2 separate regions of the Homo sapiens genome follow, and region 2 is linked to region 1. A link means that fine-mapping ties the variant in region 1 to the expression of a gene that starts in the linked region. Tissue or cell type: whole blood. Region 1 holds a variant in brackets; the other region holds the start of a gene. All regions are shown on one strand. Distances are between the middles of the regions.

Region 1 (8,108 bases):
CCAAGGGAATATAAATTGCTCTATCATAAAGACACATGCATGTATATGCTCATTGCAGCACTATTTGTGATAGCAAAGTCATGGAATCAACCTAATTGCCCATCAATGGTAGTCTGGATAATGAAAATGTGGTGTATATATATACCATGGAATAATATGCAGCCATAAAAAAGGATTAGATCATGTCCTTTACAGGAACATGGATGGAGCTGGAGGCCAGTATCCTTAGCAAACTAATGCAGGATCAGAAAAGCATATACCACATGTTTGCACTTATAAGTGGGAGTTAAATAATGAGAACACGTGGATACAAAGAGAGGAACAACAGACACTGGGGCCTACTTGAGGGTGGAGGGTAGAGGGTGAGAGGAAGGAGAAGAGCAGAAAAAATAAATATTGGGTATTAGGCTTAGTGCTGGGGTGACAAAATAATCTATACAATAAACCCTCATGACACTAGTTTATCTATATAACCTGCACATGTACCCCTGAACCTAAAAGTTAAAAACATATATATATATAAAGATATATAAATATATGCAACATATATGAAGAAATAATATAGATTCAATATAAAAGTAATTATAATATATAAAATTACACATAATATTTAATGTTCTTAAAATATATTACTTAGATAATTTCAAATAAAGATTAATTTGCGATGTCAATCATTTTTAGACAATCAATAAGACCAATTCTGATTATCTGAACTTTCTGGTTGTTTGGATTTTGACCAAATGTGGGTTTATCACCCTTAATACTCATGTTTTAGGAGCAAATTTAGTCGACTACAAAAACTATCATAGTCTAGAGATAGCCATAGGCAAGGCTGAGTGACAGAGGGGCTAAAGCAGGTTCCTTGATCTTTCTTTGGGCTTCAGATGTGACTGTAGAGAACTCTTCCTGGGGAAAGCTGATGGGACCTGGGCAAGGATCCCAGCCCTCTGCTGGCCTCATAGGCTGAGTGACTGATTTAGAGTGCTTGGGGTCAGTATGAGTTAGAGAGATTCAACTCATCTATTTTGCTGAGGCAGCTCATCTATTGGCTCTATAGTGATGTGGATATTACTGACTTTTCTCAGTTTTACATGAGGCCAATTGAAGGCCTGTCCTGAAGTTCTGCCTTCAACAGTGCTAGTGTCATAACCACCATGGAGGAGTTGAAAGAAGCATAGAGGTGAGTCTTCTCTGTATTAATTTTCTTCCCTATCCCCACTTTGAACAGCAGGTTGAATTAGTGAAATGTTGTGTGTGTGAAGCAAGTGCCCCACCTTAACTCCTGGCTTTAATTGCATTGTTACCATTAATTTATCCTACTTTATTATAGTAGATAGCTTCAAAATTGTGTTCCTAGCACAATCACTTTATCTGGTAAATCCCTTCTTGATTGGCTTTTGTGGGAGTGGCCATTTTGTATAACATGATCCTGCTCCTTGGCTATATTTAATTGGTTCATGGATAAGCACTTGACTACATGGGCAGGTACATAATCCAAACTGGATGAGTCATAGTCTCTTTTTTTCTGGCTTTGACTGAGACTACAGGTGTTAATATTTGCATCAGAGATTGGTGACTGACTGACTCAAGCTAGGACAGTTAGAGCCTTTCCTAGAAGAGGCAGATAGAAACCCAGAGACTTGAGCTGAAGCAATGCGATATAAAAACCTGGTTGCTGTGAATAGCTGTGTTTCCTGCCACGTGGAAAGAATCAGTCTGGGTGAACAAGAATGAAACTGACAAGCAGAGCAAAACAGAGACTGCAGCAAGATGCAGGGGTTACTTAAAGCCCTGGTTACAGTTGTCCTTAAGGCTGATGTGAATCTCTGCCCTTTCCAATGTGTCATGTGATTGCTCCAAATTAAAACACCTATTATTATTATTTTGCTTATGTTGGTTTAAGTTAGGTTTCTGCACAAATCTTTACCACTTTTTCTTTTTTGTTTTAGTTTGATTTATGTTGCTATATAAATGCATTTATTGTATGACCCCTGAAATCTTTATGGAGCAAAGCAAGTTATAAGTCTACCAATCCAGGGGAGAAATGCATGTATTTATACCTTATACTGTGTGAGGACTAAAGAAAAGGTGGTAAGGGTAAAATCAGCAAGAAAAGTGAAAGTTGTGCTCAATTAACAAATTTTGGTGAGTGAGGAATTTTCTAAAGGCCATTTTTAAAGTTAGAGACCTAAAGTTTGGAAAACTGACATCGTTCTCAAGTAGGACATTCTTGGAATACTTTCACTTAGATTTAACCCATTTTGAAAGGTATCTACATATGCTATCCAGAAACAGTCTCTTTCATATTGTAGACAGTCAGTAAATGTTTATTGAATGAACCCATAAGTGTCCCTAGCTTTGAGGATCAGGATATTTCATTTAATTGACCTTAGGTAAGCTATTTAACTTTCATAGCAGTTTCTCTTGTGTTAAATGGTTATTGAAATACAGAAGATTACATTCAACATGAAATTTCAAAATTATTTCTGAGCACCTATTGTTAATATCACTATTTCCATCTTTAGCTAGTGTTCCTTCTTTAAGAGTCTGAAGTGAAGCATTGGTTCAGTACCTTCCTCATTAGTCAGTTGCCTCACCTTGAATCTGCATGACCTGGAAAAGAGGCTATGATGTGATCCATAGAATACCTCCTACCTTAACCTTCAGAACATCATCAGGACCTCTTGCATCTCGTTTTATTTTTGAGTTTTTATTTGTAACTATTTTTAAAGATATTTGATGTCTTTTATTATTCCAAAGAACTGAGGAAAAATTTACTTATTTTTCTTTTTTGAAACAGAGTCTCAATCTGTCACCCAGGCTGGAGTGCAGTGGGCTGTCTTGGTTCACTGCAACCTCTGCCTCTAGGGCTCAAGTGAATCTCCCACTTCAGCCCCTCAAGTAGCTGGGACTACAAGTGTGTGCCACCATGCCCGGCTAATTTTTAAGAAATATTTTGTAGAGACAGGGTTTTGCCTGTATAAAGCTTTATACAGGGTCCAATGGAGCTGCATGGTAATTACAAGATAGGATGGTAGAAATCTTCATGAGCCTATTTTTTCCATTTTGCTATTTCAACTTGCTAGGAATGATTTTAGCATTGCTATTTAATTGTTTTCAACTCTGCTTTTCTAAAAAGATTAAAATAATAAGAAAATGGAAGAATAATGAAACCTCCTGGAAGGAAATAAATAAATCATCATGGTGGCATCAAGCTTTAGTTTTCTTTTTGGGTTGTGCAAAGTATTGCATTTTTAAAAAGTAGGGAATAAGAGAAGTATGGAGATACATTTTTGCAGTCTTTTTAAAGACTAAACACAGTTGAGGATTTAAAAATTTCCATTTTCTTCCCATAATGGCAAAGAAAAATAAGTTGATAGAGGAAAGTATTATTCGATGGAACAGAAAAAGAATGCAAAGAGACAGGTATCAGCTTCCTAGGCCATAATGATGATAGTAAATTGGTCAGAGAAGTGAAATCTCAGGTATGAGTCCTCAGATGACAATATTCTGGGTATAATTTTTTCTCCCATACTTAAGAATCAATGAATGAACAATTCATTTCTAAATAAATAAAGAAAATATGGTATTCTCATCCAGTTAGTCATTCAACAGGAAATATTTTGCAATAAGAACTTAAACCATTCTGTTTTGCTGAAAAGATGTTGAGTATCTTTTATTGTTTCAAATTGTTTCAAAATTTATTCCATGTGGTTTATTAGCAAATGAGTTCTGAAGGCAGGTGTGTTTACAAAGGTTACTGGAAGAAAATACAAGATATAGAAGTAAAAAATTAACTGGATTATTTTAACTGGTGTTCATAAATCCAGAAATAAAATTTTTTGGCACTTATGGAGCAAAGAAAATGTCAGTCTTCATGCTGATGGCAGTGGTGGCCTGTCTGGAGCAGCCACTGCCATGATGCCCGCTGCAGTGGGGGAGGTGCAGCTGGGGCTGCAGACCCAGGCATCCCTGTGTCCTTGGGGGCTGGAAGCAGGCAGGATCCCCACCCTCCCAGGTGCTGCTGCAGCTGCCCAAGCCATGGCTGCAGATCTTGGCATCTCTGTGCTTTCAGGGTCCCAGGAAGCCCCTCTTCCCCCACAGGCTCCTGCTCCCTGGCCTCTCCCCACTGCTGGCAGCCGGTCTGATCTTGCAGCAAAGTTGAGGACCAGCCTGGGCGCTATGGCAACCTGGCTGGGTGTGCACAAGCTCAGGGCAGTGCTTACATGCCAGCCCCCTGCTGCCTTGGCCCCCACCAGACCTTGGGCACCAACAAACACAAGAGGGAGGCCAAAGGGGGTGCTGAGGACAGCTCTGCATTGGCCTGCAGGTGCCCCTCGGCATGAACAGTCTGGGCGCCATGAACAGCAGTAGGAGGCAGACAGGCTCCTGGGCCGAAAGGGACGGGTCCCCAGTGGAAGCTCACCTTCAAGCCAGAGAAAGCCTGAAGCCTGGGGGCCTGGCTGCCAGTCCCACAGACCAGGGTAGGAGATTACAGTGCTTTTTCTGGGTCACCCATGGACCAATCAGCACATACTTCCTCTCCTCTGAAGTCCGTAAAACCCCCAGATTCAGCCAGACTCAAAAAAGATGACAGGATGACCAGCTGCAGAGAGGAACTACCCACCCTAGGGTTTCCTCTCTGCTGACAGCTGAACACTCATCAGGACACCCTGGCTGTGGAGAGGAGCTATCCACTGTGGGTCTCCTCTGAGCTGTTTTATCACTCAATAAAGCTCCTGCTTTGCCTTGCTCACCCTCCTTTGTCCATGTACCTCATTCTTCCTGGATGCAAGACAAGAACTCGGGACCCACCAAATGGCAGGGTCAACAGAGCTATAACACAGGGCTGAAATGTGCCCCTTGCTCGCCACATTG[T/C]AGGCAACAAGAAGGACAGCAGAGAGAAGGAGAGAAGAAATGCGACCCTTTGGGGAGCTCAGACCTGGGAGCTCCCCAAGCCAGGGCTGTGACACCTCCTTTGGGGCTCAGCAATTCCTGCTGTCTCCAAGTTTTTGGGCACCAGTGCATTCCTTGGTGCCAGCCGTGGAAGCTGCTTGCAGTATGCAGTATGCAAGGCTAGTCCAGCTGCAGCCTTGCAGGGAGCCGACACCTGTGCTGGCTCCTGGAGTTCCCTGCCCCCACTGCCGCCAGCATGCCTGGCTGTGCGCAGTGGCCGGACACCTCACTTACCCACACACCCCTCACCGCTCTGCTCACCCTTGGCAGGCATGGGATCCAGGCCAGTAGCACGAGTTGAGTGCAGCCTGCCAGGCTGAGTGGGCCCAGCAGGCCCAAGCAAAACTTAGGCAAAGGCACCACCGGCCACAGAGATTTCCGGCTGGCGAAGCAATACCCTAAGAATCCTGTGACAATGCCAACACAATTCTGGTTTGTTAAAAATTTCAAATGTGTCACATTTTGATAAGGCCAAACAGAGCAGAACCATGAATATGCTAAAACCTATTAAAGAGTTATTTGAAATCAGGAATCAATATTTACACTATGGATATGCTGCAGGCTCCTGCATGATAGGTATGGCAGTTAGTTGAATTTTAAAGACGTCGTCTATTTTGGGTATAGATACCTTCAAAAGCAGGAAAATATGGAAAATTTAAATTTGCTATGCTTAAATTCTTATTAACATTTCTAACTTTTTTTTTTACTATCCCTTATTCTTACTTCTATCAATTATTTGCAAAATGACTTAAAAATATTTTTGAAAATATTTTAAAAAATTTAAAGGGTTTATTGGCCCCAGATGGTAAATGGTGATTTTTTTTCCTGGTATAATGAAGGTAAATGAGCTCTACTTGATGTATTTCAGTACATGTATCAATGTACATCAATAAGTGAATGGATAAAGGAATGACTCTAGACCCAATCAGTAAGAATATGAGGTGACTTTCAAAAAGAATATACAATAAAAGAAAGCAAGATAGAAAGGAGATCAAAGTGAAGGAAAAATACTTCTTTATTTTCAATTTCAGTGCTTGAGAAATAGAGCCAAATATAGCTACTGGTTGTAGCAACTACTGCAGTCTCCTTAGCTACAGAGAAGCCATGATGGCTCCTGTGCTGCTCATCAAGATTTCAAAGTTACAAAGTGAACCCAACTCCATGCCCAGTTCAGTTACAAAGTTGGAGACGGAGTTGTGCACACCTACAGGTATGTTATCTGAAAGAAGACATTGTGAGAACATAGAGCCTCATGACTTTGAAAAAAATATATTATACATCAAAATGCAATTTTTAATGAGTCTGCTTTCTGTTCCTATAAGCCAACTCCAACTCACTGCTTTGCAACTTGAGCCTTTATTCTTTATGCAACACTTATACTTCATTTCGTGCTGCCTTTCCCTTCTCAGTTGACAGTTCCAGTTTCCACAGAGGCAAAAAACAAAAACAAAAACAAAAACAAAAAACAACAACAAAAACAGCTGCATTTAAATATATATTTAAAATTTATGATATATATGCAAGGATGTTTATGGCAGCATTATTGATATTACTGAAGAATTTGGGATAACTTTAATGACCATAAATATGGGAAGGACTAAATAAAACATACACTGATATTCTGGAATATTATGGAGCCACTACAAATAATATAATACTGGTATTAAAGGCTATTCATGATTACATTTCTGAGTAAAAAGGAAGTTATAGAACAATATGTTTAACAAGATCCCATTAAAAAGAAGCGATCCTCTCTCTATAGGTACATTAAATGTATATTGCATGTATACAAGCATATGCAATACACACATATATTTTATACACATATATATTATACAGTATATGTGTTTGTGTGTTTAAAAAGACTGGAAAGATACTTGTTGGATTTGTAAGTGATTATTCCAGGGGAGTGGGAATGGAGGTAATTTTTACTTTTAATTTTAAACATTTTGGTATTGTTTTCTTTAACAAGAAGGTGATACATTAATAATTCAAAACTTTTTTTAAAGATAGAGCATATCTGCTATTGAGAGTGTACTTTGTAAGTGATGTCCATTTTTTTTCTCTTTCTCTCTCTTTTTTTTTTTTTGTAGAGATGGGGTCTTGCTATACTGCCCAGGCTGGTCTAAAATTCCTGCCCTCAAGCAATCCTCCTGTCTTGGCCTCCTAAAGTGGTAAGATTACAGGCATGATCCACTACACCTGGCTGGATGTCCATTTTTATGTATCTTCTCTAAAAATGCATTATGTGTACAACTGGGTCTTCAGTATCTGACTTTTCATCCCAGGCTCAAATGTTTCCTAGACTCTTAAACATGCCATTGTCACTTCTGAAGCATAGAAAAGGCACAGAGAGATAAAATGATTTAAAAAAAATCATCATCCAAGTTCTTGATAGTGGTAAGTCAACAAACTAAATCATAATTAATATTTTGCTTAGCCACCGATGAAGTGATATCAAATCTTATTAAATATGATTAATTAAAGCATTGTTGTAAATAAACACAAATCACTGACCACCTCAAAGCCTTTGCAGCCACTTTTGAGAAGTGCAGCTCTAAGACTAACTTGGATTTTTCCACTCCCAGTCTCATCCTCAGACAGCCCAATTACTGGGAAACACAAGGCTGAATTTGAAATTATTTTATGGGGGCGATTTTTCTGTCCCCTTACCCCCAGTTTCAACTCAATTAAGGATGCTTTCTTGTTTGGCGATTGCCCGATTGTGGGATATCTTCATATAAATTCCCCCAAAATGGAATCATGGATAGATATGTTGTAACAAACTGCACATTCCCTGATGTTTGCTTTTTTCGAAAATGCGTTAGTTCTACCTTCTTTTTAAAAATTCATTAATTCATTTATTTCTGCAAAGAGGGAGCGCCTTTAAGTCAACACACACACACACACACACACACACACACACACACACACACACACACACACACGAATACCCAGGTACTCAGGCCCATGCAGTCAGTCATTTACTAAATCAATCTAGGCTGGAGAGACTGTCATCCTTCAGCCCTACAAAGGGGCTCAGTGTGTGCATCTTGCGCGGAATTAGTGCAGGCAAACAGTTCCTGGAAGGGTGAACAGCTAGCTCATGTGTAAAATGATCGCACATCGGTTCCCCAGCTGCCGCAGCCCAG
Region 2 (8,108 bases), 78 kb after region 1:
GCATGGGCAAGGACTTCATGACTAAAACACCAAAAGCAATGGCAACAAAACCAAAATTGACAAATGGGATCTAGTTAAACTAAAGCACTTCTGCACAGCAAAAGAAACTATCATCAGAGTGAACAGGCAACCTACAGAATGGGAGAAAATTTTTACAATCTACCCATCTGACAAAGGGCTAATATCCGGAATCTATGAAGAACTTAAATTTACAAAAAGAAATCAAGCAACCCCATCAAAAAGTGGGCAAAAGATGAACAGACACTTCTCAAAAGAAGACATTTATGCAGCCAACAGACACATGAAAAAATGTTCATCATCACTGGCCACCAGAGAAATGCAACTCAAAACCACAATGAGATACCATCTCACACCAGTTAGAATGGGGGATCATTAAAAAGTCAGGAAACAACAGGTGCTGGAGAGGATGTGGAAAAATAGGGACACTTTTACACTGTTGGTGGGACTGTAAACTAGTTCAACCATTGTGGAAGACAATGTGGCAATTCCTCAAGGATCTAGAACTAGAAATACCATTTGACCCAGCCATCCCATTACTGGGTATATACCCAAAGGATTATAAATCATGCTGCTATAAAGACACATGCACACGTATGTTTATTGCGGCACTATTCACAATAGCAAAGACTTGGAACCAACCCAAATGTCCATCATTGATAGACTGGATTAAGAAAATGTGGCACATATACACCATGGAATACTATGCAGCCTTAAAAAAGGATGAGTTCATGTCCTTTGTAGGGACATGGATGAAGCTGGAAACCATCATTCTGAGCAAAGTGTTGCCAAGGACAGAAAGTCAAACACCACATGTTCTCACTCACAGGTGGGAACTGAACAATGAGAACACTGGGACACAGGTTGGGGAACATCACACACTGGGGCCTGTTGTGGGGTGGGGGAGGGGGGAGGGATAGCATTAGGAGATATACCTAATGTAAATGACAAGTTAATGGGTGCAGCACACCAACATGGCACATGTATACATATGTAACAAAGCTGCACGTTGTGCACATGTACCCTAGAACTTAAAGTATAGTTTTTTAAAAAAGGAGGAATGACTGAAAATCATGAACCTAATGCCAGTTTAATAAATTGAAAGAAGAATAACAGAATAAAACTGAAATAAGAAGAATGAGAAAAATAAAGATAAGAGCAGGAATTTATAAAGTGGAAAACAAAATGACAAGAGAGACTCAGTGAAGTCCAAGAGCTGTTTAGATAAAAAGTAATAAAATTGACACATCCATGGAATGATTAACCAAAAAATAAAAAAGAAAGGTGGCACAAATAAGCAATATTAGAAACTTTAAAAATGAACCAACTTTAACTGAATAAATTGAAAACTGAGATTAATTGAGCAAATTCTTAAAAAATATAGCTTACCAAACTGACTCTAGAAGAAACCGAAGAAGTCTCACTTCCAGGGTGATGTAGGAGATCACAAAAGGCCACCTATTCACCCACTGCAACCATGAGATCAAAATCTGAAAAATTGCAAAACTCATATTTTTAAGTAATCACAAAGTCATCAATAGACCAGATGACAAGGACTGGATGAACTAAAATTCCAGAGAGGAAAGATCCCTGTCTATGTAAGCTTTGGGGGCATTTGTTGATTTGGGGTTGGGTTTAAGGATTAGACTTGGCCTACCGGGAGGAGGAAAACCAGTGGGGATTTTCATAGTCACAGGGGCGGGTCTAATGAAGTGCAATTAGAAGTGTTCCAAAATGTTTACCGTAATGGAAATGCAAAGTAAAATTACAACAAGATAATACTACATGCCTACCAGAATGGCTAAAATTAAAGACTGTTAATGCCAAATGTTGGTGATGATGTGGAGTCAGTGGAGCTCTCATATGCTGTCTGTGGGAATGTACATTGTTTTAGCCACTTCAAGAAACTATCAGTTTTTGTGAAGTTAAATATATACCTACTCTTTGGATCTGCAATTCTCATGAAAATTATTAAAGTACTGATACAGGCAACAACATGAATGAATATCACATCATACTGTGTGAAAGAAGCCAGTTACAACAGAAAACATATTGTAGAATTCTACTTATATAGTTTAAGAATAGGCAAAAGTAATCTGTCATAGAAGTCAGACTGATGTTGGGGGGTGGATATTTTCTGGGAAGGGGTGATGGAAATATTTTATATCTTGATATGGCTAGCGGTTGCACAGATAAGTACATATTAAAATTTCATAAAGGCTTACCCTTAAGTTTGTTCATTGTATACAAGTTATACTGTATTTAAAAAGCCAATAATGCCTCCAAAATACATTAGAAAATAAAACGGATGAATAAAATAAAAGAGATACTTGCATAAAAAAGATGATGGTGTGTTATGAATCAAGGATAATTGTGAATTCAATGGTATGTGAGGTCCTAAAGTTTTACTAGGTGTTTATTATTGCAGTCTCAGATTATGAACTTTTGACTTCTGCATCCCACTCAGTGTTGATTCAATACTGGTTTTAGAGTTGTCTAAAAACTGACTACACCCTCGTCTAGTAACCATTCTATCTGAGTCACTTTCTTGTATCCATTTACTGAGTCACGTCTACTCCACCCTATGAAAGTATGCTCACTTTTGTTGCACCCACACTATTTAACACATAAAGCAGGGGTCCCCGATTATTGTGCTGCTAGCGTGCGCTGGCTCCTGAGGCCTCATACCTATGGCTCTCATCCCCCATCTCGCCGCTTCCCACCAGTACCCTTTTCCTAGGGTCTCCCTGACTTCCTTCATCAACTTGGACCTTTCACAGTTTTACAGACACAGTCCTTAGTCTCTGGTGATATGTCATAAACTAGATTATGAGACTGGTGAATTAGATGGATTATTTGATTCATGCAAGAACTACATACCATTATATGTGAAAACGTAAAGTCAGGTTCTCATATAAGAGTGTGGGGGATGGAGAACTGGGCCTGAACATTTGGTTGGGAAAGTAAGCAAATAATAAAGAAGTGACTTTTGACTGTTTTCTCTACTAGAGACACTATGAATATTTCAAATGTCATTGAACAGGTTACACTTTCACACTTCTTCCCCTAAAGCTTTTGTCAGATTATTGATAGCTGTGCCTTTCAATACATTATTTTAAAAAAATTGTTGATGATGTCACTCTTGGAGAAAATATATGCCAGCATTCATAGGTATTTATGCCACTGTTCATAGATATTTTACATATTAATGATTTCTTTATACCCTCTCGTTCCAAAATGTTTTTTAGGTAATTTAGAAAGTAATATAGGATCACACATATATTAAAACCCTTAGGTAAAGAAATCATGGGGAAGGCTAAATAAGGGTAGGGGGAGAAAAGGTGAAATGAGGGAGTAAAATTAGTACCTAAAATTACTGGTTTTGATTCCGTATACTTTAAAAACTGACCTGAAAATTTGGTTCTGAGCATCTTAGTAGGAAACACTATTTGTTACTGATTGAACCCACATACATTTTTTAACTCTGGTTGGTGTTAAACTGTAGGGTTTGTTAACTTTTCTAGAAGGGAGTTGAAGGTCAGACCTTTATTCAGAAATGTGATCCTCCAACCGTCTTGCATTATCTTACTGTTTGCTTTGGGGAGAAATTAGACATAAACCTAGTATTTTTGCCAGGAACATAAAGCTGCCTTAATTCCAAAGACTTCCCATAGTAGTCTATCTGTCTGTCTGTCTTCCTATGTATGTCATCCGACAACAATATCTGAGAAGCTCTCAGAGAGTTTTGTTTTCTGGAAGCTACCTATTTCTTAGAGTAGATGGTGGAAGTTGTATTTGATTAAAGTAAAGTACTTTTAAGTTTTCATTGCCTGTTCTTTATCTATCTTTCCGTTTGTTGTTGTTGTTGTTGTTGTTGTTGTTGTTGTTTTTGAGACAGTGTCTCACTCTGTTGCCTATGCTGGAGTGCAGTGGTACAATTACAGCTCACTGTAACCTTAAATTCCTGGGCTCAAGCAATCCTTCTGCCTCAGCCTCCAAAGTAGCTAGACTGCAGCTGCGTGCCACCACATCCAGCTATTTTTTTTTTTGGTAGGAATCTTGCTAGGTAGGGTCTTGCTATGTTGCCCAAGCTAATTTTGAATTCCTGGCCTCAAACAATTCTCCTGTCCTTGCCTTCCAAAGTGCTCAAATTACAGGCTACCACACCTGGCCTGTTTGTTCTTTCTGAAGATGCTGTATGCCTTGGGAGAGTTCATCAATAAAAGTGTCTGTAGTTTTCAACTGCATCTTTAATGAAATGTTATGACTAATTTTTCAACTAATATAAAGCAGACTGCTGTCAGAGCAACAAATAGTCTAGAATTTCTAGGCTTAGAATACTATTTTTTGTTTTGAGGTATATTTGAAGCTTCTAATTGAAAAGTATATTTCTTTCTATTCAATAAAATGCTGCTATAGATAGTAAGAACAATATTAATAATAGATATTGTACTTACCCAGTAGTCTTGCAAATTTCTTTTACATATATGTGGGGAAAACCATCTCTTTTAGTGCTGAAAATATCTGATGTGTTTGTTTTCTTCCTCCTACGATGCTAGAGAAAAGTATTTTCCTCATTCTGGTTTTAACGGAAGTCTATGTATTCTCTGCTTCTGTCTCACAGCAAGCTCTAATTGGCTCAGAAACAGCAGGGCGTGTTTAACAACTGGGAGGTTGGGGAAGGAAGAATATAGGTTTGGTTTCAGTTTCATTTCTCAGATCTGAAATTACAGCACCGCCTTTTCTATCTGAAATGCTTTTTAATAAGCTATGGCTATATACCACCTTCTGGTCTGCTTGGTTAAAATCTGAAGGCTTAACAATTTTTCCTCACTTGAGAGTTTTGAGGGCTGCAGAAAGCCCCATTGTCTTGTTATAGACAAACTGTGGGATATTCTGGCTTAATTGATCCCTTGGGAATATGAGTTTACATTGCAGTCCCAGCCTTGTAGAGCACCAGGTTGGAGATACTCTAGGTCAATATTTCACTGGCCTTTAAGGGTGGAGTTACTGTCCATTCCTGTTTTCCTAAAGTGTAAAGAATGTCTTTCAGGGATAGGACTTCTTTGAGCACCCCAATAAGTGCTAAATTCATTTATTGCAGAGCAGACCAGGGCTGCAGCAGACCTGATGGTCACATTGTAGAGATTTATCTTTTCTAAGGTCAGTGTCAGGGCCAGAGAGAAAACTGCCTGAGTGAGAGCAACAAAAATAGCTGATATTTTAAAAACTAACAGCAAGTACTGATATTTATTGTGTGTGCTCAATTAGCTTTTGGTTTCCACATCCCACAACTGATTCACACTGGTTTTAGATGAAAACATTTAAAAACATTTATTTTAAAATATTTATTGGGCGCTTACCATGTACCAGGCATTGTTCTAAATGTTTCATATTAACTTAATTACTCTTCACAACAATCTCCTGAGGTAGAGATTATTTTTATCTCAATTTTAAAGGTGAAGAAACTGAGGCATAGAGATTAAATAATATGGCTAAAGTTTGCATAACTAATACATGGCAGAGATTCGAATCCAGGTTTCAGGCCAGTGCTCTTAAATCCTGAGGTTTAGGAAGAAAGAAAGTGGCTATGAAGGACAGCCTAGATATGACCATTACACTTATCACCCTCAGGAGCCCTCCTCGTAAGGGGACCCTGGGCCTGAACTCCAAAACCTGGGTTTCACTTTGCATGGGGACCAGTGTGATGGTTAATTTTATGGGTCAACTTGACCGGGCCACAGAGTGCCTAGATATTTGGTCAAACATTATTCTGGTGGTTCTGTGAGGGTGAGGAGGCAGGACTAGCTTGCAGCTCCTGCTGGGACAGACAGGACAGCATGTGGAGACTCACATCATGAACTTTTGCTTCAAGAATTACTGCAGCAACATACCAGGAAAGCCAAGAGAATTCACAGACCCTTTGAAGGAACTGTATCGCCACTGCAGTTTCTCTGAGATGCCAAAAAGAAAAGTCATGAGTCTGCTTGCTTTCTCAGCAGGGAGGCTGATAGCCAGGGGCAAGTTCTCAGCCCTGGTCACCGACTGCCTGGAAATAGATTCGATGTTGTTGGCAGGGGCACAGTGGGAGTGAGACTGGCCTTTAGGAGTGTGGGTTGTGTGGAAATGGGGTGAGGCCTGTGACTGCTGGCTTTTCCCCACTTCCCTGGTGTCCTATGTCACTCAGTGGAGACAGCCATAATCCCCCTGGGAACATAACTCCATTGGCCTGGGAACCACACCCCCGCCCCCTACAGCAAGTGCAGCAGACCCCACCCAATAAGAGTCTGAGCTCAGCCACACCTATGCCTGCCCCAACCTGTTGGTCTTTCTTTACCTGCCCTGGTTGCAAGACAAAGGACATATTCTGCCCACTGCCTCAGAAACATGAATATATAACTAGATGACCCTAGGTCAAGTTTGCTTCCTCCCTATAGTACCACAGCTAATGCACTCTTGAAAATGCCACCTCCTGGCTGGAGGCCAACCAACACAAAACCAGAGCATTTAACGAAGATATAACCAAGGACCCTTACAGAGTCCACTTCACTCCCCTGCTACCTCCACTGGAGCAGGTGCTGGTATCCACAGCTGAAAGACCTGAAGATGTATTACATCACAGGACTCTTTGCCGACACTTCCCAGTACCAGTCTGGAGTCCAGTAGCTCTGCTAGATGACTAGGCCCAGAAGAGAAAAAACAATCACTGCAGTTTGGCTCCCAGGAAGCCCCATCCCTAGAGGAAGTGGGAGAACACTACATCAAGGGAGCACCCTGTGGGACAAAAGAATCTGAATAGTAGCCCTTGAGTCCCAGATCTTCCCCCTGACACAGTCACCCAAATGAGAAGGAACCAGAAAAACAATTCTGGTAATATGAAAAAACAAGGTTCTTGAACACCCCCAAAATACCACACCAGCTCACCAACAATATATCCAAACCAAGACAAAATCTCTGAATTGCCAGGAAAATAATTCAGAAGGTTTATTATTAAGCTAATCAAAAAGGCACTAGAGAAAGGTGAATTCTAACTTAAAGAAATAACAAACATGATACAGGATATGAAAGGAAAATTCCTCAGTGAAATAGATAGCATACATAAAAAACAATCACAATTTCTGGAAATGAAGAACACAATTAGAGAAATAACAAATGCACTGGAGGTGGTTGGCAAGATGGCCAAATAGGAACAGCTTCGATCTGCAGCTCCCAGTGAGATCAATGCAAAAGGCGGGTGATTTCTGCATTTCCAACTGAGGTACCGGGCTCATCTCATTGGGACTGGTTAGACAGTGGGTGCAGCCCATGGAGGGTGAGCTGAAGCTGGGTGGGGCATCTCCTCACCCAGGAAACACAAGAGGTTGGGGAACTCCCTCCTGTAGTCAAGGGAAGCTGTGAGGGACTGTGCCATGAGGAACGGTGCATTCTGGCCCACCCACATATTACACTTTTCCCATGGTCTTCACAAGCTGCAGACTGGGAGATTCCCTTGGAGGCCTACACCACAAGGGCCCAGGGTTTCAAGCACAAAACTGGGTGGCCATTTGGGTAGACACTGAGTTAGCTGCAGGAGTTTTTTTTTTTAATACCCTAGTGGTGCCTAGAACACCAGCAAGACAGAACTGTTCACTCCCCTGAAAAGGGGGCTGAAGCCAGGGAGCCAAGTGGTCTAGCTCAGCGGATCCCACCCCCACGTGCCAGGTCTGTCCTGCAGACCCTGGCCGAGCGATGGATCTAAGGGGTACTCAGACACAGGTATGCGTGTAAGAGCAGCTAGGGATCTGCCTGGCTTTAGTGGCCGAAGTGCAGCAGCCCTGAGAAGCTGGAGCTGCTTGCTTTTATTCAGTGCAGGCACAATGTCGAAAACCTGGAGCAAACACAACCTGAAGGTTACTAACATTTATTGTTCCCCTTTCAGGAAATGTCATACACGTGGATGATCAAAGGTCAGTTCCTTGTCAATATAAGTAAAGGAACCTGTTTAAGATAAATTCCCCTATACTCACTTGTACCTACTCCTTGCCCTCTGCCTCAGGGATATAGAACAGCTGCCTTCAGCTATTCTCCCCTGGACCTTCTGACCTTTCAGA

Evidence for each region. PIP is the estimated chance that this variant, and not a neighbour inherited with it, causes the effect.
Region 2: it holds the start of SAMD9, and the variant in region 1 is fine-mapped to the expression of SAMD9 in whole blood (INTERVAL, PIP 0.99).

What each region holds. Positions count from the first base shown.
Region 1 is chr7:93,035,400-93,043,507 of GRCh38, forward strand. No RefSeq gene overlaps it. Among named protein-coding and RNA genes, the nearest start is that of SAMD9, 79 kb to the right of the region's middle. RefSeq lists enhancers at 3,618-4,133, 4,335-4,474, 5,166-5,680. The variant T/C (reference allele first, on the strand shown) is at 4,879.
Region 2 is chr7:93,113,388-93,121,495 of GRCh38, forward strand. SAMD9 (sterile alpha motif domain containing 9) reads right to left here and starts at 4,592. Exons shown (of 3, transcript NM_017654.4): 1 at 4,476-4,592; 2 at 1,408-1,508.